Regions from separate parts of the Homo sapiens genome. Here regions 1, 2, 3, 5, 6 and 7 are each reported to be linked to region 4. The links are microRNA targets in miRTarBase. Many come from high-throughput screens and were not tested one by one. Region 4 holds a microRNA gene; each other region holds the end of a gene's coding sequence.

Region 1 (4,064 bases), not on the chromosome of region 4:
GTTCAGTTAATCATTAAACTGTATCGTTGTTAGCACGTAGGTAGCTTTATATTACTTGTACCAACAAAACTTAATTTTTGACACACCTCTAATAACATCACTTTTCTGTTTTGGAAGATCAAAGCCATCGGCCAGACAGAGTTGAATGCAAGCAATCCAGAAGAAGTGTTACAGCTGGCAGCGCAGAGAAGGAAAAAAAAGTTTCTCCAAGCAATGGCAAAACTTTACTTTTAAGCAGTTAAATTTTTTTAACTTTTATTTTTTAAACAATGGGCTAAAAATAAACAGTATTAAAAGGTTAAGTTTATATAATACATATGTACACAATTAGTGGTGTTTTCTTTTCAGACAAAATACTGAAACAAATATTAGTTTAAAAACAAACTATACAGAAGACTTCATACCGTAACAATAAATGTATAGTTTCTTCAAAGGGAGAAGAGATTCACATATCTGATAACAAAATAAACTAGCAATCTAGTTTTCTAATCTACTTTATGAGGCTGGATTTTTTTTTTAGAAAAGCTAATTTAAAATATTTAGAAATAGCTAGCCTATGTACAGCAAGTTTTCATGTCTTTTTTTAATAAATAGATTTCTAGGAGTCAGTATATATTTAATACTCTTCTTCCTTAAGAAAATAGAAGTTTAGGTCAAGTGTTAAGCTTTATCACTTTGACACTGTCCTTATCTCACAATGGAGGAATTTAGAAAGGACCTTAACAGTTTCACAAACATAAATAAAGCCTTAGTCACACTAAATTAAAAAAAAAAATTCCTTAGGGATATCTTAGAGTAGTAAAGTGACTTCCTCATATAAATAGTTTGAAAGGGTACTTAAGTTTTTCACCCAAATTGTGATATACAAAAAGGTTATTACCAAGCAACCTACATGTCAAGAAAGCCCCAGTTAGGAAGGAGCCACAGCATTTATCTTGTTTATAATTTCTTTGGTACTCCCACTGTTTAGAGCACAGGTTGAACACCATGTTCATCTAAGCCTTATTAGTTAAAAAATGTGTTATGGCAAGGCAAATAAACTAGTTTAAAAAACATTAAATTTCACCATTTGTAGAAATTCAAGTTTTATAATAGCTTGCTATAGCAGCTATAGATAAATTAGTCACCTTATTACAAAACTAAACCTTTGTAAACAAGTTTAAATTTAATTTTCAAGAACCAAATTGCACTAGTCAAGAGTGTAGGAATTTTGAGAATCTAACAACTAGATTCAAAGTACTGTATCACTTAGTATACCCTTTAAGGTAGCACTTATCCAGTCCAAAACTCCAGTGACAAAATTCCTAGTTTATCAAGATAAACACAGTAACACTGGATTAAAGGAAAAACATTGCTATGGTATAGACTGTGGTTGGCTTCTATCCAGTAACCTTGGGAATGAAGACATCTTTGTAAACAAGTCCTGCTGTTTCTTTAACAGCTAACATAGGAAATAATTAAATGTATTCTTTAGTGCCAATTGTAAGTTTTAAAATCAGAATGGCAGTGTAACTTGTGAATTGGCTAGGGCAATCAATCACAGCACTACTTTCTGTAAAACTTTAGTAGTTCAGTGATACCAGTTCTACCCAATCTTGGTGAATTCCAACTTGTTTGCTTAGTTATCTTCTTTAGTGTTTTCCTGGTGGTTTTTCAGTGCTCTTCGGTGGTGTCATAATGCCTCCATTGCACACTGGTGACAACTGTCCCCCTTTTCTGAAGGTGTTTATGTAATTTACTTCCTCCTATACATGGGAAGAAATCATGCACTGATTTCATAAATCAAAGTCAAACCAGACTTCTGGGTACTTATTTGAGATTATTTAGGCCTAATTTTAATAGTCTTTTTATGTCTTTGCAAGTGTGAAGGGTCATATTCTGAAAGTTTCTGTAACGTTATATATTTTTTAAACTCTTTATCTAGACTGTTGGCATTGATCTTGAGACACTTCACAAATCTTGCTTTGATTTCAAAGTAATTTTATTAACTTTTCTACATTTTGAAATCAGTGTGCCCCTTAGAACTTTCTTTCCCCTGAAACTGCCTGAAGGAGTACTCTATTCCTACCATCAGTTTTGGTGACTTACTAGATTCAGATAGCAAAGCCAAAAAACTCACAAAAAAACATACCAGCATAGCCAAATAGTTTGTATGTGTCTGGATATTATGTCTGTCTTCCATAGGAATCTTCTTAAAAGTCTTCAGCTTCACTGGACTAGTACTTTTTACTACATTGACAAAAGGTACCATCCAATCTACACATTCTGAAATACTGTCCCACTCCAAACCTAGATAGATAGAAAAAAGTTAGAAAAGCATGAAGGTTGTACATCAGAAACTATCTTACATATGTCTGATGTACTTGTTGCTGTTTTTGAGATATTTTAAAAGAAACCAAATCATAACCAAGAAGTTTAGCATGTCAAAACAGATTATCACTCTCAAACTATTTACATGACTATGTTGAAGGGAAAAAGGACTTCAGAACTTCTTAACCAGTACCTTCTACATATGAAATTGAAATGGTCAAATCCCAAAGAACTCTTAAAGCAGAACTATAATGTTGATTCATTTCAACTGTATTTAAATTCCATTTGGTCTTTTTGTTGATACACATTCAGGATTGGAAAGTACTTCTAACAGAAAGATAATTACTGAACAGCTAATTTTTTTTTTGCCAAAGTTTTAAATGCATGTTTAGCAGAATGTTAAAGTTCAGAGACTGTAGTCCCATTAGAAGTTGTGAAAAGGTAAGAAGACAACAAATAGAGAGTCTTACCTGAGGCTTTCTTAACCACTTCAATGGAGGTAAAATGGCACAAGGCAGCAGCAGTCAGTATTCTGTACTGGAACTCTAATGAATCAATGGCTAGAATACACAGATCTAAAAGCTAACAGGAAAAACAAAAGTACAAGCAATTTAGGAGAAAGATGAGTACTAAATGTCTCTTGCTAAAACCTTAGGGATCTAGAGATAAATAAGCCACCACCCGGCCAGGCGCGGTGGCTCACGCCTGTAATCCCAGCACTTTGGGAGGCCGAGGCGGGTGGATCACAAGGTCACGAGATCGAGACCATCCTGGCTAACACGGTGAAACCCCGCCTCTACTAAAAAATACAAAAAATTAGCTGGGCTTGGTGGCACGCGCCTGTAGTCCCAGCTACTCGGGAGGCTGAGGCAGGAGAATGGCGTGAACCCGGGATGCAGAGCTTGCAGTGAGCAGAGATCGCGCCACTGCACTCCAGCCTGGGCGAAAGAGCGAGACTCCGTCTCAAAAAAAAAAAAAACAAGCCACCAACCTGAAGGAAGTAGACAAGGAAGGACTGTTGCAATACAGTGTGACATGTACTAGCAGGAAGGGCACCTAATCCAGATTGGAAAAGATAGTGATGGCCTCAAATTGCCATAAATGGGTCTTAAAAGATAAGGGAGCCAGGAAGAGTAGGAGGCAGAGAATGTTCTAGGTATAGGGACATTACTTGGAACTCAGTTCACAGTTCAGAACTCCTAAGGTGAAAAATAAATAAGGAGTACCTTCATTTCTTATCAAGAAAGATGAGGGGTGGTGGCTAGAAAGAGGCATGGTCTAGATTGGATCACAAAGGGTCTTTAAGAAGTCAGAATTTTATAGGCTGATTCTTGAAGCTACTGGAAGATTTTTAAATCAAAGTTCCATTTTAAGAAAGATACCTTAGAATGCAGTGAAGCAGACAGACTAGAAGAAAACATGTTTATTAAGCAGTGAGATTAGTTAAAAGGCTGTATAATCTAGGCAATAAGAGCTGAACTAGTAGCAGTGGAATGGTATAGTGTAAAAGGGGTAGATTTCACAGATTTGAGAAGATACTTGTGCAGTGGAATTAAACTTCAATTCTGTTTGTCCTCATTGGTCCAGAAGGTAGGAGAAATGGGAGAAGAGCTGGGAATTGGAAGTGAAATATTACTGTTATATACCTCTAGAAAGTCCACATTGTTTATCGGCTTATCAAAGATTTACCATCACTATCAGAAGGGTATAGCTGCCTAGGACAATTTGGGATGCTAGGAATTCTGGATGAAAAA
Region 2 (4,068 bases), not on the chromosome of region 4:
TTTCAATGGCACCTCTGCCCAAGAGTGGTTTATGGCTCAAGACTGCCCTTACCGAAAACGACCACGGATGGCCAAAGAGGAATGTGAAAAGTTTCATGCCTGCTGCTTTTACCAAGAATGTGGTGGCCACTACCTAAATTTACCCCTTTCTGTCAATGCTAATGTTGGAAGTGCCTCCACTGCTGCCTCCTCTCCCTCCGCCTCTTCTTCCTCCTCATCTTCCTCTTCCTCTCCCCCTTTGCCTTTACCGAGTTGTTCCCGCCAGGTGGATTTTGATGTAGGTAGTGCATCTATTTACAAGAGTGATGGCCAGATACCTGCCAATGAAATCTTTGTCACTAATGTCAGATCACTTGGTGTTCAGGAAAAGGCCAAATTAAATGATGAGAAAGCAAATGATGACACCAACAGAGATGGTGGCCCCCTCAGCCACGAACCTGTGGGAAATGACCTTGCTTTTGAGTGCAAAGGCCAATTTTATGATTATTTTGAGACCGGATATAATGAAAGAAACAATGTAAATGAATCTTGGAAAAAGTCCTTACGGAAAAAGGAGGCTTCACCACCAAGTAACAAACTGTGCTGCAGCAAAGGAAGTAAAATATGAGCCATCTTCTCACCGAACTTTGAAGCATGCACAGCATGATCAGTTAGCTCTCGTAAATTTTATTTTGAATGGATTTTGTAGTTTTGTACAACAGATAAAATTATGCCATGAACATGCCATGTCGTTTTAATGCCTGGAGAGCAGATTGCGTAAAACATCTGTATAGCAGGCATCAGCGAGCTTCTTATAAATGTGGTGATTTTTACCAAGGAAACGATTGACTTAATGCTTAAAAGTATATCATAGTTTTCTTACGGAAAAGATCAGTAGATGAGATTGGGGGACAATGTGCCCTTGCAATATTTCCATTGCCCCCCAAGGAGCCTGTCACTAGCTAAGAAATTTCTACATGTTTGCCAGTTAATTAGGGAGTTATTTGGTAAGCAAATCAATATAACCAGCAAAGATACCTGCTTCTTCTATATGATACAATATTTTTTTTAAATAAAAGACTAAAGACAGGGAGCTAGATGAAATGGCTTAATGGTGCTGTTAAGTATTTGTACCTAACAGTCTTGTGTGACAGATGAAAATAGGATGTAACATAATGAAACACACCTGTCTAGGGGCGGCAATCAACAGTCTTACACAGAGAGGGTATTCCCTGCAAGTTTCTGGCTTGCCTGTGATGGGTGATGAGGCTTTTAGAGAGGTGTTATACAGGGCGATTTTTGGTGCCTTACTTTTATCTTAATTTTTGCCAATGTGAAAATTAAGGATAAATCAGAGTTACAGCAGGGATTTAACAAACAGGACAAAAAAAAAAAAAAAAAAAAAACCACAGGGTGGATCAATATGGTTTGGAAACTGTTAACTTTGAACTATTGTGTTCAGCTTTTGATTCGACATCTCTATTCTTTATTTTTGATGCCCAATTGCTTTTGGATTCGCCGTTTTTTCAATAGGGATGGAGGAAATGAGAGAGAGAGCTGTTAGAAAGCAGCACGGGCTGCTCGAGCTTTTCTATGGCAACTGTGTGTTGCTGGGGTTGGGGTTTTCTGGGTTTTGGGTTGTTTTGTTTTGTTTTCTTGTCCAATGAAGTTCACGAACCAGTGGCATGCATTATACTTTTCTCTGTTTTGCATCATTTCACTTGTTTAGATTATAAAAGCATGTGGGTTTTTATATATGAACTTTGCTGTTGATTAAGAAGCACAATGTTAATAAATGATGTGGTGATCAATAAGGTTTATCTTAAAGAATGTAAAGACTTTAGGTTTTTGAAAGTTATTTTGGAGAAATGGGACTTAATCTATAATAGTTACTATGTATTTGGTCTACATTTTCCAAATAATATCTTTAACTTGTACATTTGAAAAGTGTTCAGAGTGGCCCTCCTACCATCCTTCCTTCCACTCCAGCCAACTCTTCCTGCTAAACTGTATTCCAGTTTCCAAGTTTACTAATTGACTTGGGCCTGTTCAAATAATACTTCACAGAAACCAAATGCCAAACGGAGGAAATAAGTAAGCCCTCCCAGTTTCTCCAAGATAAAGCTTTTTTTATTATTGCTATTAATATTAAATATAGGTCTCATTCATACAGTGTATGAGTAGGATCATTTGGACAATTGTCCACAAAGACCAATTTTTAAAACATTTTCTTGTGTTATAGTTAAATAGTCTAGTAATGTTTTGTCCTTTATTTTCAATATTTGATAAACATTTGATGTTCAAAACTTAGCTAATAGATGCTTGTATATGAATGTGTTGTAATAAAGTGAGGTTTTCTTGATATATATTTATTAAGATGATAAAAATTCATTAAGTTTTTTAAATTTTAATGGCTATTGGCTATGTTTCTCTTTTCCATTATTCTCTCTCCTTTAAAAAACTCAAAACATCTAGAAACTGTAGTGGATAGTGGCCACACAGGAGTTTTCTAAATTAAAGAGTATTTTAAAATGCCAATCTGACAGGTGTTTCAGAATGATCCTAGTTCGTAAGTTTAAGTTTCTATTGATTAAGAAGCACAATGTTAATAGATGATGTGGTGATCAATAAGGTTATGTCTGAAAGAATGTAAAGATTTTCCTTTCTGGAGTGTCTCTGAAAAAAATTGTATAACACGAAGCCATAAATACTGAATCTTAGCTGATTGCATTATGAACTGTCAAACTGTGAAGATGACCCATATGTAAACAGTTATAACAGCTACAGATTATTGCTAGTAGCATTCCATACAATTCCATATTAATGTTCTTAGGAGCTAATATTTGATAAAGGGGAAAGCTAGTTAAAAACTAATTAATTTGTCAAATGTAGCATTCTTATTATGAGTGTAATATCTCATGGAGATTTAAATATGAACGAAAGGACTTATCCTTCTGCTTTTTAAAAGCCCCAGCATTACTAGATAGTGTTTTTCTTGAAGGCCAAAGCTGTAAAATGACAAAGTTGGTGATTTTCAGCAGCACTCACCTGAGCTGTGAGCGCCTGCACCTGTTCGGTAGAACCCACTAGAATCACTTCTCTGTAGGATAAGTGATGCCTTTGAATCCAGCAGCATAAAAATCTGTTCTTTTTAGTCATCAAGTTTTTGTTTCCAGGATATTTCTAGCATTGCAAAAAAAAATTTCTTCACCAAACACTAATTCCTAAACACCCATCCAAACCACAAAAATTCTCTTGTTAGTAGGCGAGAGTGCTAGGACTTCCTGTGTTCACCTCCCATGCACCCAGCATTGTCTTTTATGCATGAGATATTCCATTAGATTTTCCTAGAGTGGCCAGGACACCCTTCATAGTAAGTTATATCTCTTAACTGGATTCTATAGTTTTATCTCGAGCAACTTGGAAAAGCTAAGACATCCTCCACCCACACTGGTATCTACGCGCCTGGAAGCTGCACCTTCTCTCATTGCTGTGCTCTGCTTTAAGGAAAACCTGATATGACAGAATCAAGACTATTAAAAGATAAATGAGGGGAAATCTTCATTTAAGAAAGTTGCCTTGCTCCCCAAGAGTGCCTTTAATTGCTATTCCCCTAGGCATCTGGGTGCATATCATTAATGAAATCATTAACCTTTGTCTCTGGTCCTTCCTTTCTAAAAACAGCAGATTATAGAAGGTGGTCTGGCAAAGGGATTTTCAAAGGGCAAAAGTCTCATCATCATCTTTCCACTCAAAATCCTATTATTCTACATTTCACTTTGCAGGGGTCCTAGGGACAGGATTGCAGGGACAGGGGACATGGGAGGAAGACAGAAAAATTCAAAACCAGCAGATGCCACTACCTGGCAATGAATTGAAAATTAGGGGAAAGCATCTTTGGCGTGACCTTTTATTAAGACAACAGAAATTTAGAACATTTTACATGCTTCTTTGTTAAATGGTGAAGCAAGGGAATGAAAGTATTTATTTTTAGAGCTCATAGTTAACTCCATCAAGACATGGCTACCCACCCCTCCAGTTATGAACTTGTATTACAGCTCCACTTGGTGACTTCCTTTCTGTGTATCA
Region 3 (4,069 bases), not on the chromosome of region 4:
TCTAGAAAATAAGAAAAAAAAAATCCCTGATGAAAATAGTACTTTACTATTTGTAGATTTACTGGTTACTTTAAAAGATTAAGAGAATGTTTGCTGGCTGGGTGCAGTGGCTCATGCCTCTAATTCCAGCACTTCGGGAGGCCAAGGCAGGAAGATCCCTTGAGCCCAGGAGTTTGACACCAGCCTGGGCAACACAGTGAGACGTTGTCTCTTAAAAAAAAAAAAAAAAAAAAAAAAAAAAAAAGCAGGCGTGGTAGTGCAGTGCACACCAGTGTTCCTGGCTACTTGGGAAGATCACTTGAACTTGGGAGGTCAAGGCTGCAGTGAGCTGTGATCATGCCACTCCAGCCTGGGTGACAGAGGGATAGCCTGTCTCAAAAAAAAAAGTTTGTTAACAGCATTTCCTCAGAGTATAAGCTTGTTTTTCTAGGTCTGTCCAAGAAGATCTTGGAGTATATTTTTTCTCCCTCTTCAGTAGAGAATAGTGACTTTTTGGGTAATACTTTAGCTGTGAAAATTTTTCTTCTAAATTTTTCTACTCTGAACAGGAATGTTTTAAAACACTGTTAGGCCTATTGAGTGAGCTATTTTTCTAAAACATTTTATCTTTTGAAATACGTATCTTATTAACAAGAATGTTTTTAACCAAAAAAAAAAAGAATTCTAACTTGTATTGCAAGCCCTCTTCCCAGTTTCAATTTTTATACAAATATTAAATCACTGATTCTTCTATGATCCAAGCACAGATATGTTACTTTTTAAGGATAAAAATAATCAAATCACTTAGGTTAAACTGGTTGTCTACAGTCACACAGTAAGTTAGATAAAGCAAAGGAGGTGTCAAAGGGTAACACTAAATTCCATTCACTAGCATCTTGCCTCACTAACACTCTCATAAGATAGATTACTAAATAATATAAGTATTAATAAATGGAATTTCCAAGAACTTTCAACTAATAAAGGGTGGGATTATAAGATTAGTTTTTGTTTTACTAATTACAACTATATCCTGGAACTATTTACATACTACCTAGGAAATAAAGTTTGTTTATTCTTGCAGGATTGTTTTTAAAAGCAGTATTTTCCCAAATATTAATTTAACAGTAATCCTAAAAGTAACTCAGGAAATAAAAAACTTATCACTTCAGTACATTTTATTCATAATGAGGTAAAGTTTTTGTTTTTTCTCTATATATGTAGATATATATAGCAACACAGGTTAATTGTGCTTGAGGATTCCTATGAATTACAAGATTATACATGTTCCCATTCTATTTTTCTACTCCTAAAGCAATCGTATATACATTATTTCCTAATAACTCAATAAGGTAAAAGTCTTAAATAATTTTATTTTATCCTCTACTCTTCTGAGACCATGTATTCCCATGTTGTGGGGAAATAAATTCTGGCACAGGAATGAAGAGACCAAGATTTCTAGGTTATAGTACTTCAAAATCACACTCTGTCTTGGACCTCAGCTCTCTAACAAAAATTTAAAAAATTAGCTTTTAGGTTTCTAAGGTTTCTTCCAGCTCAAATATGCCATGATTTGAAAAGTTACCTTCTGTGGTAGCTTCTCCTACTTATCCTTTCTTTCTTAAATGTTACCCTAGTCCATTTAATTAGACCTACCTAAATACTTCAGAAAGGTCATATCCATCCAATCTTGTATCCTTGATGGATTTAATATTAACTTATAGATATATTTGTCTAAAAGTATTATGGAAATAGTACACAACTGAAGGTAATGCACTTTTGTACTATATTCTATTTAACATTTCTATTAGGAATAAAATGATCATGTTATAATTTTTAAGATCTTGGGTTTACTTAAACAATTCAATAACTATTACGTAATTCTATTAGTTTCTTTAAACTTTAAATTCAATCTGAACGTAATATTTTAATGTGTCAAAAGTAGCTAATATATTCAGTTCAATGCTTGACAGGGTTAAAAACGTGAACAACATCAGAAGCAATGCATGTCTGGAGTGGGGGTGAGGGTGCTATGAGCTTTGCTGAACAAAAATATCTCAGGTAAATCACACTTAAAAACTGATACCAGTTGCCTTGAAGGAATGGGTACATATCAAAACCAGCATTAATATGTCAAATAAATTTGAAAGGAATATTTTCTTATTCCCAGAGCCCAAATTTCACATAAAACAGAAGAAAATATGTACAGAAATCCTCAGACTACTAAAGTCCCCCTTTCCCAAAAAACATAAACCCTCTAACCCCCAAGCACCTAAAAGGCTATAATTTACATTAACTACAGTTTGACTTTTCACATAACAGCGAGAAGGACCTTACAAATCCTCAGTAAATCTTCAATTAATATTTAGAGAACAACAGATACGCAAACAGGTTTTATGTGTAAGCTACCTTAGACGGCCATAATAAAATTATGAGCAAAGATAATGGCATTTCAACAGATTGCTTTAATGTTAAACCTCACAATGAAGGATACTTGCTCAATAAAATAATGCACTTTAGTGTAATGAAAAGTTTAATACATACAAATAATACTGAAAAAAATTCCTAGTGACTGGCTAGCTGGTAATATGCTACTCAAAAATTGCCTTTCAAACCTAAAGGACCTAGATTGCTTTATTATTTGTTTACACTATCAAAGAAGAATATTTTGCCACAAAATGAATAATGGACAAAGAGGCCATTGACATGTATACTTTTAAAAATATTAACTAAAAAAATAGTTAAAAGTAAAAAATTTTATTTTAAAAGTAAGGAAAAAGCTAAACTGGTTATAGTTGAGATTTTAATTGTTATACTTTGTGAATGAGGGGGAGTTAAGCGCTTGAAACATTTTATATTATTTACACTTAAGAGTATGAAAAACAGTGTGAGACTACATCTGGCTATGTTATTATAATTCAGAGGAAATCATTATCAAGTCACACCCCTTGTAGCAATAAAATATAACAAAGCAAAAAAAAAAAAGCAAACCAAATAGAATCCCTCAGCCAACACAAACTTAGTCTATTCTTAGGGGTTGCCATGATGTTTCTGATTAATGGTAACATATTCCACAAGTGCAAATAAAACATCAGAAATAAAATATCTTTTTCACTGAATAAGAAAGCTGTTATTTGTGTGATCTTAGTAAAACTCTGAAAGGAATTTGTAAAACTCATTCATAATTTAATCAAATGCCTTAGTTTTTTTTTTTACCCCCTTGGTATAAAAGTTTACAGATGAGTTTCATATTTCATCACAGTTATATGGTCTAGTGCATTTCAGAGTATTTGGACATTATCAAAGCTGTCCTTTCCCAATGAAAACATTTAAGAAAACGTTAAGCACTTCTCAAGTAACATGATGTGGAATTACACTTTTTGCTCTTACCTCTTTTAGGTACACACGTATTATTCAACAAAGCAAAACTATTTTACAGTGTCTGTTAACAAAAAGTTCTCTATTAGATAGAGGAAACTACAGTATCCTGAAGCTATTTCCCCAAGAGCTAGTTTAGTAGATAGACCTTTGGGCCCATCTTATTTTTCCTTCTTTTTTTTTTTTCAGTAAGGTAACTTTCCATTATGCACATACTATACCATCATCATTCATTGGGTGGAGATTAGCTGGGAAGTAGCTGTATATTTTTAGTGAGATCACTGATGGCAATGGATCTCTGGATCGTGCTGCTGCTTATGGTTAAATCATATCTAATGTGAAATTTCGAATTACATCCAGAGCTCCAGTATCAAAGCCGCACATATCCAACATGCCTCTATCATCTGGGTCTGCAATGGTGAAACCATTTGATGTCATTCCACAAACAATCAATTTAGCTGGAATATCCATTTTCTGTAGAAAAAGACCAAAATACATATTAAAAACATAAATGTAAGGAAATGCAAAATACCTCCAAAATTAAAACACTTTAACATTTCTCTACCAGAGCTTTTTAAATACAAAGTCATTTTTTTGCGGGGGTCAATCTTTTAAGGCTAGAATATGGGAGTTTTAGAAGAAGGGACAATAAAATTGTATAAGAATCTGCCTGAAATTTCTACTTCTCTCTTCAATTACTTTACTTGTTCTATGG
Region 4 (4,069 bases):
AGTCAGTCATAATATAACACTTTATAAAAGCTAGACTTGTCCTTTCAGCTGTTTTATATAGTATCCTCTTAACTTACAGCTTAAGTTAGTTGACTCATTCAGTTTGAAGAATAAAAGGAATAAATCCTCAAAGCATTCTTATCTAAAAGAGAAAGGAATTTTGTTATGCTAATAAGTATCATAGAAAATTTTCCTTTAAAGAAAAGTTCAGCAGGGCCAGTGCCAACTGTTGTGTTGGTAATTGTATTGAACCTTTTCATAGAATTAGTGGGGATTTGAACTCTTTTTTAAAAGTTATAATCTAAAGACTTTTTTATAGTTAGCTCATCATTAATTTTTATGTCAAAACTTGCAGAAGGCCAGGCACGGTGGCTCACACCTGTAATCCCACCACTCTGGGAGGCCAAGGCGGGTGGATCACCTGAGGTCAGGAATTTCAGACCAGCCTGGCCAACATTGTGAAACCCTGTGTCTACTTTAAAAATACACAAAAAAAATTAGCCGGGCATGGTGGCGCACACCTGTAATACCAGCTACTCGGGAGGCTGAGGCAGGAGAATCGTTTGAACCTAGGAGGCGGAGGTTCCAGTGAGCTGAGATGGCGCCACTGCACTCCAGCCTGGGCAACAGAGTGAGACTGTCTCAAAAAAAAAAAAAAAAAACTTAACAGAAAAGTGTGCATTTATGTTTGTATGTGCCCTAGTGTAGAAAAGTAAAATGTACTGGGAAATTAACATGATAGTTTATTGTTTTTGAGTTTTTTTACAGGTATATAGCAATTACTGTCTCATAATTTACATTTTTATATGGAAACATACTTCTGGGTTTCCTTTTGGTTTTTATTTTCTTACCTCTCTACATTCTACTATCCCAATCTGATTAAAAATGAGAAATACTTTTTCATATCTCTTATATTTGTATTTCTTGTCAAACAACACTTGCTTACCCCACAGTGTCAAGAAGCATGTTTTTTTTTAATTACATAAAAGGGTGAAACTAATTATTCAACCAAATAATGAAAACACTAGTAGACTTGGAGCAATTTTTTTTCACTGTGGCACAAGTAATGTTTAAAAGTTTGTATTTGAACTTAAAGAAATTTTGCCCTAAATTAACAAGCCCAACTGAGCAAAGTATTTTTAGACCAGATAGGGTATGGGCAGTAGAAATACAGGATCTTTCATTATTTTTCCTTTGGTGGATAGGGAGGAGGATGGGGAAATATCTCAAGGATAAAATGCTCTAGGTCTTTTATCCATGTGTCCCAGTGGACCACAACTGAAATCAGGACTAACATTACTGCTGGGGAAATGAATGTACTAGTCTTTTGTTATGAATGTGAAACTACTGAACTGTTCATTCAAAACAAGGTTGAGTAAACCCCTGTCAACAGAAACAGAAGAAACCCTGGCTACACACATAAGACTTTCTGAACAATGCACTGTATAATGGGAAAGAACAACAAAATAAAAGTCAGAATCCTGATGGCCCTTAGTCATTTGTAACTGGTGTTAGGCATATCACTTAAAGCCACTGAGTTTCAGTTGGACTCATTTGCAAAGTATGGAATTTTTACTGTGTTGTCTGTTGAAGCCTCTGTGTACTGTAAAACTCCATAATTCTTTGTGTCTCATGTGAGTCATTTCTAGTTCTAAAAGGTAGAATAATAGAGAATTGGTTTGTAACAGCTTGGCAACCAACTGTCAATAACTGGAGTCAATGAAAGCAACTATTTCAAAAGATCAGATTACTTACCAGTTTCACTAATAAAGATTTATTACTTTAAACCTTTATCATAAAATGTATGCTTTGAATACTGTGAAGTACACTGCATATAAGGAGTGTGGTATAGTATAAAGAAACTTTCTGCAGGTAGTAATTATAGTGAAGATTTTAGGTTTACAAAGCCCTAGCTGTTTTCTGTGTAGCTTTTATTATTCTTATGACTCTTGACAAGTTTGTAGCTTCACCATATACATTTAATATTTTGCAATAATTGGCCTTGTTCCTGAGCTGTTGGATTCGGGGCCGTAGCACTGTCTGAGAGGTTTACATTTCTCACAGTGAACCGGTCTCTTTTTCAGCTGCTTCCTGGCTTCTTTTTACTCAGGTTTCCACTGCTTTTTTGCTTTTTTTAATGCTGTATGAAGGTGTTAACATTTGTTTATATTTTTCATTAATTGTAATACCTTTAAATCATGCATCATACTCAGAAATAGGGATTAGAATTTAAGTGACATCTTTGGCCTAATATAATTTACCTGTTAAAAATTTGTGAAAGCTATTGCTTATTTCTTTTCCAAAGTAGATTTGGATGACAAATTCAGTTTGGTTTTGAGCTTATCTAAAAAGCTTAATGTTTTAAGCATACCAAACTCATTAGCAGAAGTCAAATATGTCTCTCCCTATTGCTACACAACTTTTTAGGGATATTGTTATATATGAAAGCATGACATCAAACGGACCTAATACACCTAAATGCATTTGAAGCTACTTGGTCTCGGTTCTTACCAACGATATAATTTAATTTTTTTTTCCAAACGATGATGTTGTTGCATACCTGTGGAAAGCAAAATGATTCTGTGAAACTATACTTTTAGTTTTGCAACCATTTGATAACTTCAAAGATTATCAATGTATTATATCTTTAGTCTTAGCTTTCCAGATAACCCAGAATCATATGGTTCCAAGTTGATTAAGCTTTGTTACCAGCAGACTATGGTAGGATCCTGATGAACGACACTATGGAAGAAACTTGTTAGGATAAACAGTCTTCAATGTGTGCATATTGTTGACAGAATTTGAAGGCACAAATTTAAGAGTAACTAGGGTGTAAAAGGCGAGCAAAGAAAAGTCAGCACTACTGGGTAAGCAGGTGAGGGGGCTTATTGATAGGAGAGTCGGCTATGTCAAATAGGGACTCAAGGCACAAAGTCAATTTCTTTACTGACAACTTTCAATCCAAGTAATAGGAATTTTGTATTTGTAAATTACTAGGTAGTGGCTCTGGCTATTCTTGTTTTTTCATTGATTTCTGTGAGCATTTCTTAGTATGTATTGTGTGATTCAGCATAGATTCAGACATTGTATAATACCTACAAATCCACCTATTTCCCTTTTCCCTTCTCCATTAACCTGCCGCCACTGAAATCTGGAGCCAAATATATCTGGTAAGTACCCACAGATTTCCTTGAGTTGTATAGACTCTTCCATGGAATAGTTCTTTAAATAGCTGTGAGCAATAAACTCTGTGTGACTGTTTTTGTTAGAATTGGTTTTTGTATATGTATATGTTTATTTCAGGCACAGGAGTGAGAGAAGAGGGGATGAGAGATGAGAAGGGATAATCAAGTGTGATGGCAATTGCATCTCCTTCCAAATACACCCATGGGGCTGGCTTTAGTTGAACTTGCCCACCTACTAAAATAGTGCCACAGACAGAAGCCCAAGATTATAAGCTTGAGGTTTTAACAATTTGGTCTTGTAGATGCCTAGTTACAAATAAATTTGGCTTTAGTAAAATGGCTCATCTTTAAAAAAAAAAAAAAAGAAAACTACCTTCACAGTGCTTCTATTGTACAAGCACAGTCTGGAAAAAAAATTAATAGGTACTATTAAGTGAAATAACCTTAGATTCATGGGTATTCTAAGCATTTCTTTAATACTTTTTGTAATTTTTCTGATTATTTCTGTGTTATTAAGAATGCTTTCCTTTAGAACAAATGCTAGTTCAGATCACCTATATAAAATAAAATCAGCCTGTTAATGCCTGTTCAATACTTTTGTGCTGAGCACTGCATTTCCTTCCTGCTCTCTTCTTGGTTAAAGTGAGAGTTAAAAATAGAACATTCTGTGGAGCCCTCCAGGGAAGTTCCTGAACCATCAGTTTATATTGTCCTAGTTCTCTTAGCTTGCAGAATTGATTGTGCTTTCCTCTGAAAGTGCTGAAAGAAATGGGATAATATTGCAACAGTGCAGTCCTTTAACAAAACAGAATGGTAGTGTTTTAAAAAAAAAAATCTATGTTGAGATCTGGATATTTATTTTGTTGTTTGGTATCACTTACTAT
Region 5 (4,069 bases), not on the chromosome of region 4:
ACCTCACTGACCATATCATAAAAGAAAACAAAATGGAGGGTAAAAGGCCACAGAGGGTCCACTGCACTGTCTCATCACTTACGTTAAATTCACTAATCCTTAAGGGTTTAAATTTTCGTGCAGTAAAACATCTTCCTTTTCATTCCTTTCACCTAGGTATACCGGACACTACTTCATAACCACTTTACTCTACTCCTTCTTCCTGGGATGTTTTGGTGTGGATCGATTCTGTTTGGGACACACTGGCACTGCAGTAGGGAAGCTGTTGACGCTTGGAGGACTTGGGATTTGGTGGTTTGTTGACCTTATTTTGCTAATTACTGGAGGGCTGATGCCAAGTGATGGCAGCAACTGGTGCACTGTTTACTAAGAAGAGCTGCCATCATGGCCCAGGGAGGCGGGTGAAAGCTCCGTCTTCTGAATTCATCTCTACAGGCTCAAAACTCCTCTTTGATATCAGACCTGATGTTATTTTCCTTCTTTTGGAGGGCATTTGTTTGGTTAAGAAGGCTTCTTTGGACTTTGGAATTTCAACCCAGATTTTACCTTGCAGACGGAATGACAAGCAAAAAGTGTTGTGGGGAATCAAATTTGTTCCTTTCCTCATGCACAAAACATAAAGGATAGTGGCGAGTTTACAAGCTGTGGATGGGTTTCCATAGTCTTCCTTTCTGTACATTGCTATATCTTCAGTCCTTTGGAGCAAGTGGACCTAACAAGTTGAGCAAAATGAATATTTGGATCCATGTTCCTCTTGTGACCCTGAGTCTTCATGCAAGGAGATCTGAAGCTGAACAATGAAAATCTTCAGCAGAAATAGAAATGGCCGTGGATTGTAATACACACTGAAATTCTGACTTTCTGAATTTAAATGTAGAATAAATTTTACCAACTTGGAGTACTGTATGAGTATTTTCAGTAGGGGGAATAAACTCAAAATTATATTTGTTTTGCAGAAACCTAGTCATTTGAAATGAGCCATCCTATTAAGCCCTCTTTTGTCTCCATTATGTTCCAGAGGCAGTATATGCAGTGCAATAATTTTTTCATTCCACTTATGTTTTGAAAGCCAGCGGCATCAGATGTGTGAGTTGAGCTATTCCTCCTGGCAGAATTGTCCAATCTAAAAATCAGCGTTTACCAGCCCATGCTAATAAAATTAAGATTTCATACAAGTTTCTGTAAAACTATTCTTCATGATTAGCTCTCCCTGTGGGCTGCAGCAGTCAGAAAGAGATAACAGCCACACCTCTGCATTCCCCGGTCACCAGGAATAAAAGGAAATGTTCCAGATTGTAAGTGGTTTTAAAAACTCAGTTCTCATCGTTTGCAATCTAAGTTGAAAGAACTATTAAATATAAAATCAAAGGTGGGCAATGTGGCCAAGTCAATGGAAGAGGCTTTACTCAGAATAACTTACAAATTCTAGAAACAAGGTAGAACTCACTCAGTTTACCTAATAATAATTGAATTTAAGACCAAATATCACAGTTGAAATAACTTCCCTGGATACATTCTATCATTTTGTAGCTTTCCTAAGAATTTCTTGCTTTATCATTCCTGATTAATCACTGTTTTTACATTATTAAAGGTGGCAATTTTCTGTAAAAAATTTAAAACAGATGATCCTATTCTGTCTTGAAAGTTCTGTACCACACTGACCTTAACCTTGCTTATAACATAACAATTGGTAAACTTTTAATTCATAATCTTTATACCCTAAGATAGTATTTATTAAATTTTTATGGGTCATGAAGAAACTAGACCCTCTCCCCAGAAAAATCTACATACACAGAATTTACATAGAACTTGGGTTCATCTACACAATTTATGCATGAAATAAAATTGTACTGGTACCCTATAAATTTATACAAATAAAAGAGTTTAAGGGAGTTCAAGGATGCCATATGTATATTTTAAAAAAATTTCTAAGGGAAGTCTAAAAAACATAAATTATAATATTACCCAAAATAAGATGCTACTTTTCACCTAACCAAGTCCTGCCTCATTTCACACTTTAACCTCCTAAGTATATTCATAACCCTACCAAAAGTTGTTTTCTTTAAAAAATAAGAAACTTTAGGGCCAGCGCAATGGTGCAAGCCTGTAATCCCTGCACTTTGGGAGGCCGAGGCAGGTGAATCCTTTAAGGTCAGGAGTTCGAGACCAGCCTGGCCAACATGGTGAGACACACTCCCCCACCCCCGCCCAGTCTCTAGTAAAAATGCAAAAATTAGCCGGGCGTGGTGGCGTGCACCTGTAATCCCAGCTACTCGGGAGGCTGAGGTAAGAGAATCACTTGAACTGAGGAGGCAGAGATTGCAGTGAGCCGAGATCCTGCCACTGCACTTCAGCCTGGGCAACAGAGTGAGACTCTGACCAAAAAAGAAATTTTGCAGCTCCAAGGCTTGAAGTCATTTATGTTGCCAGGGGTAAGAGCTTGGTTGAAGGGCTAAAAGACTAGAAACTACTGAAGATGCCCTTCTTACTGTCAGTAAAGCTGCTGGAGACAAAAGAAGTTGTTCTCGCTGCTAGAGTGGTAATTTGAGAATCATCAGTATTCCTATGTGACAATCCAAAATTACTGGTTTTCATTTGACTTGTAAATGACACCCATCATCCATCTGCCCACAAACCTGGCCAAATGTGATACAACCTGAAAACCTGATGGACTAAAGGAGTACTATTTAACAATTGATTGCCTTTGCACTTTATTCAGGTTGTTTCTTAAATTTTGGTAGACAGATCCATTTGTATATGTGTGTGTTATATCTAGTTTATGGCTATAGAGAAGGTTTAAAATACTACAGTGTCCTTCCCTCAAGGTTAAATTAGAAGCTGCCTGCCTTTTAGTTGTTTCTTGCCTTTAATAAAATGTTATCAGTTCCCCCAGATTTCCTGGCACTGTGTTCTTCTTCCACTTGACATAGTCAGGCATCTTAGCAACAGTATAGTACCCCAACCTAATGATCCCTGAATGTGTATATGTGTTTCAAACTCCATTTTTCTTATTTTTTAATTGTAATCTCACAACATTACCATTTTTCTTTTTATTTTTATTTTTAAGTTCTGAGGTACATATGCAGGATGTGCAGGTTTGTTTCATAGGTAAATGTGTGCCATGATGGTTTGCTGCACCTATCAATCAACCCATCACCTGGGTGTTAAGCCCAGCATGCATTAGCTATTTTTGCTAATGCTCTCCCTCCCTCTACCCTACCCACTGCCAGGCCCCAGTGTGTGTTGTTCCCCTCCCTATGTTCATGTGTTCTCATTGTTCAGCTCCCACTTATAAGTGAGAACATGCAGTATTTGGTTTTCTGTTCCTGCGTTAGTTTGCTGAGGATAATGGTTTCCAGCTCCATCCATGTCCCTGCAGAGGACTGTTGCTTTTTATGGCTGCATAGTATTCCATGGTGTATATGTACCACATTTGCTTTATCCAGTCTGTCATTGATGGGCATTTGGGTTGATAACCATCCATTTTTCTTTGTAAGAAAAAGATCCAAAAACTTCTTGCCATGTTTGGCACATCTCCAATACAAACCACGTGATATAACTGGTTTTTTTTTTTTTAGATAATCCCACTTTAAAACAAGATATTTAATTGATTGTTTCAGGTATGACTGTCAGGAGCAAATTATCTTTTCCCCGAAGAACAGCCATGGAAAGGGAATCACTGTCAAGAGCTTTAACAACATCAGTTGTAGTAGTAATAGGTTTCCCATTTATGTTGACAATTACATCGTGATCTCTCAATCCAGAGCTGAGAGAGGGAGAAAAAAAAGAGGATCATGAAACTATAACAAGAATTTTACTTATCCCCATCTATAATTTAATATTTCTGTCTTAATGGCACTATTTTGCTGGCATTAAGCATACAAACGAGAAAATAGCCTCAATCCTTCCAAATCATAAAGCTATTCTAAAATATGCTGCAAAAAAGTCACCTAGAGGACAACTGTCTTATTTACCTTTATAAAATTAATTTCCTATCAGAATCATGTGAGAAGTTTACTCCTCCCATTTTGGGGAGTTGGTTTGGAAGGGGGAGTTTAGCTTTTAATTT
Region 6 (4,069 bases), not on the chromosome of region 4:
CTGTTTGCCAAGTGACTGAATGATCTCTGTGCTCAGCATGGACAAATTTTCTAGTTTAAACTTTTATTGTCTGCTTCTGACCCCTCTCAGGTCACTCTGACTGCTGAGACCTCATGTAGCTACATTTCCTGGCCCCGGAAAAGTCTCCATCTTCTTCTGACCAAAGAGCGATACATCTCCTGCCTCTTCTCGGCTCTGCTGGGATATGACATCTCAGAGAAGCTCTACACTCTCAATGACAAGCTCTTTGCTAAGTTTGGGCTGCGCTTTGACATCCGCCTTCCCAGCCTCTACCATGTCCTGGGTCCCACTGCTGCAGATGCTGGACCAGAGTCCGAGAAGGGTGATGAGGAAGTCTGTGAGCCAGCTGTGTCCCCTCCTCAGGCCACACCCACCTCTCTCCAGCAAACACCCCCTTGTTCTACCCCTCCAGCTACCACCAACTTTCCTGCACCTCCTACCCGGGCCAGGTTGTCCAGGCCAGACAGTGGCATACTGGGTGAGGACTCCACCAGTCTGGTGCTGGAGGATTTTGAGGAGGTGTCAGGATCAGAATCGTTTATGGATTATAGGAGTGATGGGGAGTACATGAGGTGAAGGGAGAACTAACATGGGCACAGCCACCGGCTCAGGATCCTATGTAAGTACTCAGAAGGCAGCCGCTGCACATTCCTGTCAATGGCTGGCCTTAACTCAGCTTGTTAGGGCAAAAAAAATCATTCGTGGAACATTTCCTCTTAGAGGACTCACAGAAAGTGGCATTAACCCAACTTTGAAGATAGCAACTCACTCCGGGTGCATGCAAGGCATGAAGGGATTTTAAAAACTCATTCGTTATTAACTTGATTGCATTTTAGAAAGTGGGCTGGTTGATACGTTGAGCAGGAAGGTAGATTGCTGTTTTTTTGCAAGTTTATTCTAATAGCTGAGGCCACAGCTGGGGCTTAAGGGGCTTTTATTTGTGGCATGCATTTTAAAAGAAAAAGAATGTGGCAGGGTTCTAATTCTGATTGCTTGTCTTTCCTGATACAGAGCCCGTCCTGGAAAGCAGTTGTTATTTAGCCTAGACTGGGCAGGCATCTCTGTTAAAACTGCATATTTTAAAGAGGATTGTGATTATGAGCTAATAGCTCGGGGAGGAAAATGTCCTCATCTTGCTTTCCTCTCACCCAGTGGAGAATGTGTTTGTTGATCACACAGACAGAGGACTAGATACTGCTATGATTAAATGTTACTATGATCAGATAGGTATATGGCAGCCTGGCTTTCCCCAGTCACCCACACCTGTGGGAGGTAGGATGTGCATAAATCCTGGAGGGCCTAACAGTGCGTGCAGGATTTCCCTCACAGAATTTCCCTCCCAGAGAGTCTACAAGAAAGGCTGTGCCCAGTGGTTCTGGGAAATTGCTCTCATGTTTCCCTGGCTGCCCTCATAATACTGTGATGTTTTTCTCTGTAACTCCACCCAACCATGATGTAGGCCTGAATTTCCTGAGGAAAATCCCATTGTTCCCAATTTGGAAGGCGCCTCCCATGGTTCTTCAGAAAGCACCAATAAATTACCTGAGAAACTAGCCCAGTGAGGAAGGCCTCCAGAGTACATGAAATGAATGAGTGAATGTTTGTCTATTTTGAAAAACAGGTTATATAAATGATGAAAGAGGCCATAGAGATGACTGATGAAAGGTTAGAGATTTAGTTTTGTAGATATGGAATTTACAATCTCCTGTGTTACCAGCATCCTTAGAACCATAGTTCAGCTCATTCTGAGGTAATTCCAAGGATCAATCTAACACCCCAGATCACTTTGTTGAGTTCCCCGAAGTGTGCATTGACAACTCTGATCACTCCTTTCCCTCTGTGCAGCTGTTCGCCTTCCTACTCGTTCATCCTGCATCCACGCATGCTCCTTATGTCCTATGGATCCCTCTTGGTCCAACTTGCCCATCCACCTATACACTCTCTCTTCGACTCACAGCAGCTCTCTGTTTTCTCATGTTGTTCTTCCTGGTTTTCTTCTCTTTTCTTGGTTCTATTTTTCTCTTCTTTCTTCTCCAATTTCTTCTCAGTCCTTGATTGCCTCAGTTTGATGTTCTGTTCTTTTTTCCTTTTCTTTCTTGAGACAGGGTCTCACTCTGTCACTCAGGATGGAGTGCAGTGGCATGATGTCGGCTCACTGCAATCTCTACCTCCAAAAGCTCAAGCGATCCTCCCATCCCAGCCTCCCAAGTAACAGGGATTACAGGCACATGTCGCTGTGCCTGGATAATGTTTAATTTTTAAATTTTTTTGTAGAGACAAACTCTCCCCATGTTGCCCAGGTTGTTCTCGAACTCCTGGGCTCAAATAATCCTCCTGCCTTGGTCTCCCGAAGTGTTAGGATTACAGGCATGAGCCACCATGCCTGGCCAGTTTGCTGCTCTTAAGTGTCCATTTTCTATGTCTTCTCAGTTCATTTCTCCCTCTTCACTTGTCTCTTGTTTTCTTCCATTTTATTGTTCATATATTTATCTCTCCTATTACCTCCTTTTTTCTTTTTCCCACCTTTTTTGCCTTGCTGTATCTATTCTTCCTCCTAAACACCCTGTACCCCCATCTTATTAGTTTTTAATCCTAACTCTTCCAAAGATCAGTACTTTTCCCTCTGCCTATAAAGAAAACCATTCAAGTGAAGGTGTAAAATCCCCAGCTTTAGGAATGTTTTCCAAACATCAGGAGGCAGGCAGCATGGTAAATGAGAAAGAGGCCAGGACTGGGAGTCCAAAGTCCTGGCTTCTATGTCTGGCTTTGCTACTAATCAAATATGTGACTTTTTGCAAACCATACCTCACTAAACCTTACTTTCTTCATTTGAGCGTGTTGGACCAGCTGTCCCCAGGAACCCCCTTGGATTGATCTGAGAAGGCAAGGATAAGTTTTTCAAAGGAAGAAAAGAGGAGTAGTCAGTCCGCAGTACAGTAGACACAAGCCCCAGGACATCTGAGTGTCTTTCAGCAAGAACTCTCTGTGATATTTCACTACAATTTCTCTGGCACCTTGGGACTCTCCTCAGCCCTTGTGGTGGTGGGTCTTGTTTAACTAGCAGTTCCCTCCATTCTATGCCTGTGAAGAATCTATCACCTACCATGTGATTACAGTGCAGATTTTTTTTTCCTTTTCCTTTTCTTTTTCTTTCTTTTTTTTTTTTTTTTTGTTTGAGACGGAGTCTCGCTTTGTCACCCAGGCTGCAGCGCAGTGGCGCGATCTCGGCTCACTGCAAGCTCCGCCTCCCGGGTTCACCGCCATTCTCCTGCCTCAGCCTCCCGAGTAGCTGGGACTATAGGCGCCCGCCACCGTGCCTGGCTAATTTTTTCTATTTTTAGTAGAGACAGGGTTTCACCGTGTTAGCCAGGATGGTCTCCATCTCCTGACGTGGTGATCCGCCCGCCTCGGGCTCCCAAAGTGCTGGGATTACGGGCGTGAGCCACTGCGCCCGGCCTACAGTGCGGATATTTTATGAGAGAGGAGATCACAACTCAGTCCCCAAGCCCTCAACCCTTAATACATACTATCGTATGAAATGCCTCTTTCCAAATTCAGCCTTTTCTAAAACTCAAGATGAGAAAACTGCTGATGAGGCTCACTTTCTAAAATACCGGAATTTGCAATATAGGGAGAATAGTTTTTCATGTTTCTTTGTTTAAGCAATAGAGAGAAAGGAAACTTATGTCGTTTACTTTTCAGGCCATAGAGGTTTTCAGAACAACTTGAAAACATGATCAAATTAGCCAAACTTCTGATAGTTTTCAATGTAGTCTGTGATCATGGGATAATTTAGCCTCAGTTCTTTTTCTGAAATTGTGTTTTGAATGTTTGATTTGACTTATTTACCATCAAACTTGCTATAAGGTTATTACTCTAATGAATAAGCATATTCCCTTAATTGGGAGCAATTTACTATTATTTCTTTCATAAAGTAGGGCACCATTCACCATCTATTTCCTGGCTCTTTAGTTATCAAAATGTTAAGCTCATTGCTATTCATCCCGGCACAGCACTTATATGAGAGGCATGAAGCTGGCTGAATTCT
Region 7 (4,069 bases), not on the chromosome of region 4:
TCACATAAGGCAGGGGAGGCACTATAGACGTTCCCAGGGAGGCTGGCAGTGACTTCAGAGACAGATCTCACCGATCAAGAAAACCACACACGAATGGGGAGAGGCAGTGTGACAGGATTTTCCCTCCTTAGGACAGGTGCTCTGCAGGCCGTGATGATTGATTCATGAACACATGGATGGGTGACCCAGTAACTGGCTGAGGGAGGAGAATGGAGTACAAAGATATTCTCCCAAACAGGCAAAAAGTGTAGGACAAGGAGGAGGGATTTTCAGGCAGATTGATTATTCTGTTGTCTGGTGACGGCTGGGCCTTTAGGTAAAAGACTTAATATTGATAAGCCAAGTGTTGGATTTGACCAATGTATCTTTCTGTTTGGAATTTCAAGAAGCACTGACAACTAGTTGGAATCTTTCATTTACTGTATTTCCATACCGTGAATGAACACACCTAAAGGCCCTGAGTAGAACAAGAAGACAGTTTATTCTAATTATATGTTGAGGCCGGTTTGCTAATGTGTGTGGTTGGTTTTCCTACTTAGCATAAAAAACAGACATAATTGAGCTATATATAATGCACATCAGTCAAACTGTCAAGTTGCTGAACGAAGAAAACTCAGGCAAGTTCTTAACTGCCGAGGCTTTCAGCCTAACAACTAAATATTTCAATCAAAAGGTGGAACAGAAGTAAACTAAACCATCATTGTAGTGACAGTCACTCCCTGGACATTCTGATATTACTAGTGGATTTTTTAAAAATCCATTTTATTAAGTGCTATGCATGCAGTAAAGAAAGAAAAATTTTTGTTTACTTAAAACAAAGCAAAACATAACATAAAAATTAAAAATTAAAAAACCCAACTAAACATTTTAATGCACTCTTTCTCCTTTTTGTGGAGGGGAGGGGAGACACATAGATGGTCCTAGGAAAGAATTTTGAAATATGATTTTTGATTTCAAAACAGAGATATGAATGTTAACTTCTTTTTAAAGCTGAGTCTTAAACATTTCTTAGGAAGCCAGTCAGATTAAACCATTCAGCTGTTACTGTTGGAATTTAAAAAACAACAACTATGAATTCAGTATTTAAAATACTCGAAAATGATATGTTTGTCTAAAATATAATAGAAAATTATTCCATTTGCATTTTTTCTTTTTTTCTCTTTTCTTTTTTTGCTTTTTTTTTTTGCTTTTGTTTTGATTCTTCAACCATATATCCAAGTCATAAGTTTCACTGGACACTCAAAACCATCTTTTGAAAGCACTGCATACAAGGAAAGATTGTTGATAAATATTGATTTAAAAAGTAAGTTATTAGATAAAACTGAAACTAGTTATATAAAAATCATGCTTCGAGACCCTCATATTTTCTTTTTTTCTCCAAAATAGATTCTTATACTATAGTGAGAGAAAAAAACACATCCTTCCCTTTTCTGCACTCTTATAAAAGCTACACCTTTTGTAAAATACTGTTCTTTTAAAACCCATGAACACACACACACACACACACACACACACACACATTAAGAGGTCAAGCATTCAAATGGAGATGAAACACCAGCACCTGCCTAGATTGCTAGAGAGAAACATTCACCCCTGTTATTTGTGAGATGTGATATTAAAACATTAGCACAGTAGAATGGCTTGTTTCAAGGAGGCACGACTGTGGTTCAGGGACTATCTGCTTTGTATCACGGGCAAGTTCACAAAAGTTGTTGAAAATAAATCAGAATAATTCAGAAGAGTGAAGTAGGCTGGGTGCAGTGGCTCACACCTATAATCCCAACACTTTGGGAGGAAGAAGTAGGATAGTTTGAGACCAGCCTGGGCAACATAAGACAGACCTCATCTTTTATTTTAAAATAAAAGTAAAAATAAATTAGCCAGGCATGGTTATGTGAACCTGTGGTCCCAGCTACTCAGGAGGCGGAGGTGGAAGGATAGCTTGAACTCGGAGGATGCTGCTGCAGTGATCCATGATCGCACCACTGCACTTCAGTCTGGGCAATAGGTGAGACTCTGTCTCAAAAAAGAAAAAAAAAGAGTGAAGTAGCCTGCACCTCATCCATGGGGTTCCTTCAGCAGTCAAAGAGTGCTTAACTGTTGTGGGAAGGCTAAAAGTGCCCCTATGGAAACACTGGGTTTTCTTTCTCTCTTTGTTTCTCCAGTAGTTAGTCTATTTTCACCCCCCAGAACAGCAAAGCCGGTTCCATAGGCTTAAGAAAAAAAAAAAAATAAATCTTAGGCTATTAGCAGCTGATGATTGAACAATGTAATCTGTGTAGTGAATAGAGCCCTTCTGAATTATTATGTAGTACATGGATTTTCAACGTTATAGGCAGGCCGTATAAAACCAGTCGCAATCCAAGGGTGTCATGTTATAGCCCCACATCAAAATTTGGACTTTCGCAATCAAGGCTTACAAAGCTCCCTTCCCTAGTGTCTCCCCAGCTGGTATTCAACCATGCTTCACTTATAACTAAACCACCTTTCATTTGCTGTGATTATTAAAAACATTAAATCAGGCACATTAAACATCTCCTGGTTACTATTTTGTGAAAAGCAAGAGTTGAATGAACTCCAGCTGTGGGTGAAGTGTAAGTGAAGCAATGGTTAGGTCCACGTTTTGGAGGTTTGCTTTTTTTTTTTTTTCTTTAAACATTATTTTCTTATTCACATGCAATGCTAAAGGGAAAAAAATAAAACAGAAGGAAGTCAAAATGAATAGTAAATAGGGAGCCTAAGAAAAAGTGGAAATGGAGAAGAAAACTGGGCATTAGCAAGTGGACCAAGAGGAGGAGAGGTGAAGAGATGCTTGGTGGTATTATTTGGACATCAATGGATCTTATAATATTTTATAGTAAGAAAAAAAAAGGTATGGGAAAGGCTGTGTGTTTATCTGGAATTCTGGTGACACCACAGCACAAACTCAACATGAGTTAAGATGTCAAAAGATTTCCTACCCAGTTACCTTGGATCTGTCTTACTTGACATCTAGGTATACCTCATTTTAGCTAAAAGCTGTGGTTTAACAAGATTCAATGTTTCAGGCAAAGGGTTGGACTGATAAGAATGAAACCATGGCTATATACAGAAAAGGTTCAGTTTATAAACAAGTAACTGGTACCAGAAAACTGGAGAAAAGCACCAAAGCGTTTCCCAAGCTGATAGATATTAATTGCATAACTCCCTTTTTTCTTATATAACTAAGTATAAAAGACAACATTTCCATAATAACTATAAAAATGAAAGCCAGTCTTTGAAGAACTGAGGAGTCTTCCAGGTCTGAGTTAATTCTAAAAATGCCCTTAAAAGAAAGGACGCATGGTACGCTACAGCTCTTCTTGGAGGCCAGGTCTGATGGTGCATTTTAAAGAATCGGATTCAGGTCTGTTCTGTGAGTGGTGAGCTGGCTGAGGGTGGAGCTTCCTACCACCTCGCTGACCGATGAGGAAGTAGTGATGGTATTATGCTGGATGACTTGTTGCTGGGAGCAAGCTGGGACAGGACTAGCAGGAGGGCTACTCTCTGGACCTAGGGAGAAAAAAAAAGACAACACACACACATACACACACACCAATATAGGTCTTTTTTGTATGGACTTGTGGACTCCTCAGAGAAACTGTACTAGATATTTACTTGAAATAGAAGTTTCACACATTTTCTTCTGAAAGTTAATTTCAAAACTTTATTTTCAACTGTTGTCACAATGCTATGCCTTTCCAGTTTATATCTACGAGCAAAGCCATGCTTTCTGTATCAGTAAAATGATTTGATGTGTTTCAGTCATGGATATGTGAACTTCCCCATTTTGTCTTTTTAAATAGCCATCCGTATATCAAATGTGGAAAAATACTCACATGTGGTGGGAGAATCTGTGTTGCTCAATCTAAAAAATTATTTGAAAATAAATTGACCTTCAGCCATGAATCCCTGCTCCTCCCACCATCCCTACTCAACTATCATTTAACCAACTGGCATTCCAGATGCAGAAACTGGGGTCTGAAGGAAGGGATCATTTTACATATTGGTAAACTGAGGCCAGTCACTAGCTTTTCAGCCCAGTGAGTAA

The links. The annotated mature microRNA hsa-miR-128-3p reads UCACAGUGAACCGGUCUCUUU and lies in region 4 at 2,059-2,079, shown strand. An mRNA with a match to its seed (bases 2 to 7 or 8) in the 3' UTR can be bound and repressed. Matches are read on the target gene's strand: a 7mer-m8 pairs with bases 2 to 8, a 7mer-A1 pairs with bases 2 to 7 and ends in A, and an 8mer does both.
Region 1: miRTarBase lists INTS8 as a target of hsa-miR-128-3p. The part of its 3' UTR that is shown has no 7-base or 8-base seed match.
Region 2: miRTarBase lists SERTAD4 as a target of hsa-miR-128-3p. Seed matches in the 3' UTR shown: 7mer-A1 at 2,724-2,730.
Region 3: the mRNA of RO60 is a reported target of hsa-miR-128-3p. Seed matches in the 3' UTR shown: 7mer-A1 at 3,233-3,239 and 7mer-m8 at 193-199.
Region 5: the mRNA of HTRA4 is a reported target of hsa-miR-128-3p. The part of its 3' UTR that is shown has no 7-base or 8-base seed match.
Region 6: miRTarBase lists POPDC2 as a target of hsa-miR-128-3p. The part of its 3' UTR that is shown has no 7-base or 8-base seed match.
Region 7: miRTarBase lists CREB5 as a target of hsa-miR-128-3p. The part of its 3' UTR that is shown has no 7-base or 8-base seed match.

Annotation. Positions count from the first base shown.
Region 1 is chr8:94,880,001-94,884,064 of GRCh38, forward strand. It overlaps INTS8 (integrator complex subunit 8), which reads left to right. Exons shown (of 27, transcript NM_017864.4): 27 at 118-1,746. The coding sequence ends at 234. It overlaps CCNE2 (cyclin E2), which reads right to left. Exons shown (of 12, transcript NM_057749.3): 10 at 2,781-2,892; 11 at 2,132-2,289; 12 at 224-1,745. The coding sequence ends at 1,632. Among named protein-coding and RNA genes, the nearest start is that of CCNE2, 13 kb to the right of the region's middle.
Region 2 is chr1:210,241,731-210,245,798 of GRCh38, forward strand. SERTAD4 (SERTA domain containing 4) reads left to right here. Exons shown (of 4, transcript NM_019605.5): 4 at 1-4,068. The coding sequence ends at 607. Among named protein-coding and RNA genes, the nearest start is that of SERTAD4-AS1, 9.9 kb to the left of the region's middle.
Region 3 is chr1:193,084,338-193,088,406 of GRCh38, reverse strand. RO60 (Ro60, Y RNA binding protein) reads right to left here. Exons shown (of 9, transcript NM_001173524.2): 9 at 1-3,828. The coding sequence ends at 3,676. Among named protein-coding and RNA genes, the nearest start is that of GLRX2, 19 kb to the left of the region's middle.
Region 4 is chr2:135,663,388-135,667,456 of GRCh38, forward strand. It overlaps MIR128-1 (microRNA 128-1), which reads left to right and starts at 2,010; the gene lies at 2,010-2,091. All of the region lies in intron 19 of R3HDM1 (R3H domain containing 1), which reads left to right. LOC124907893 (a long non-coding RNA gene) reads left to right here. Exons shown (of 2, transcript XR_007087245.1): 1 at 1-3,170. RefSeq lists an enhancer at 1,328-1,427.
Region 5 is chr8:38,987,633-38,991,701 of GRCh38, reverse strand. HTRA4 (HtrA serine peptidase 4) reads right to left here. Exons shown (of 9, transcript NM_153692.4): 9 at 3,039-3,766. The coding sequence ends at 3,604. It overlaps TM2D2 (TM2 domain containing 2), which reads left to right. Exons shown (of 4, transcript NM_078473.3): 4 at 157-2,894. The coding sequence ends at 370. Among named protein-coding and RNA genes, the nearest start is that of TM2D2, 6.8 kb to the left of the region's middle.
Region 6 is chr3:119,644,690-119,648,758 of GRCh38, reverse strand. It overlaps POPDC2 (popeye domain cAMP effector 2), which reads left to right. Exons shown (of 4, transcript NM_001369919.2): 3 at 91-640. The coding sequence ends at 597. Among named protein-coding and RNA genes, the nearest start is that of POPDC2, 14 kb to the left of the region's middle.
Region 7 is chr7:28,818,578-28,822,646 of GRCh38, reverse strand. It overlaps CREB5 (cAMP responsive element binding protein 5), which reads right to left. Exons shown (of 11, transcript NM_182898.4): 11 at 1-3,531. The coding sequence ends at 3,368. Among named protein-coding and RNA genes, the nearest start is that of TRIL, 140 kb to the left of the region's middle.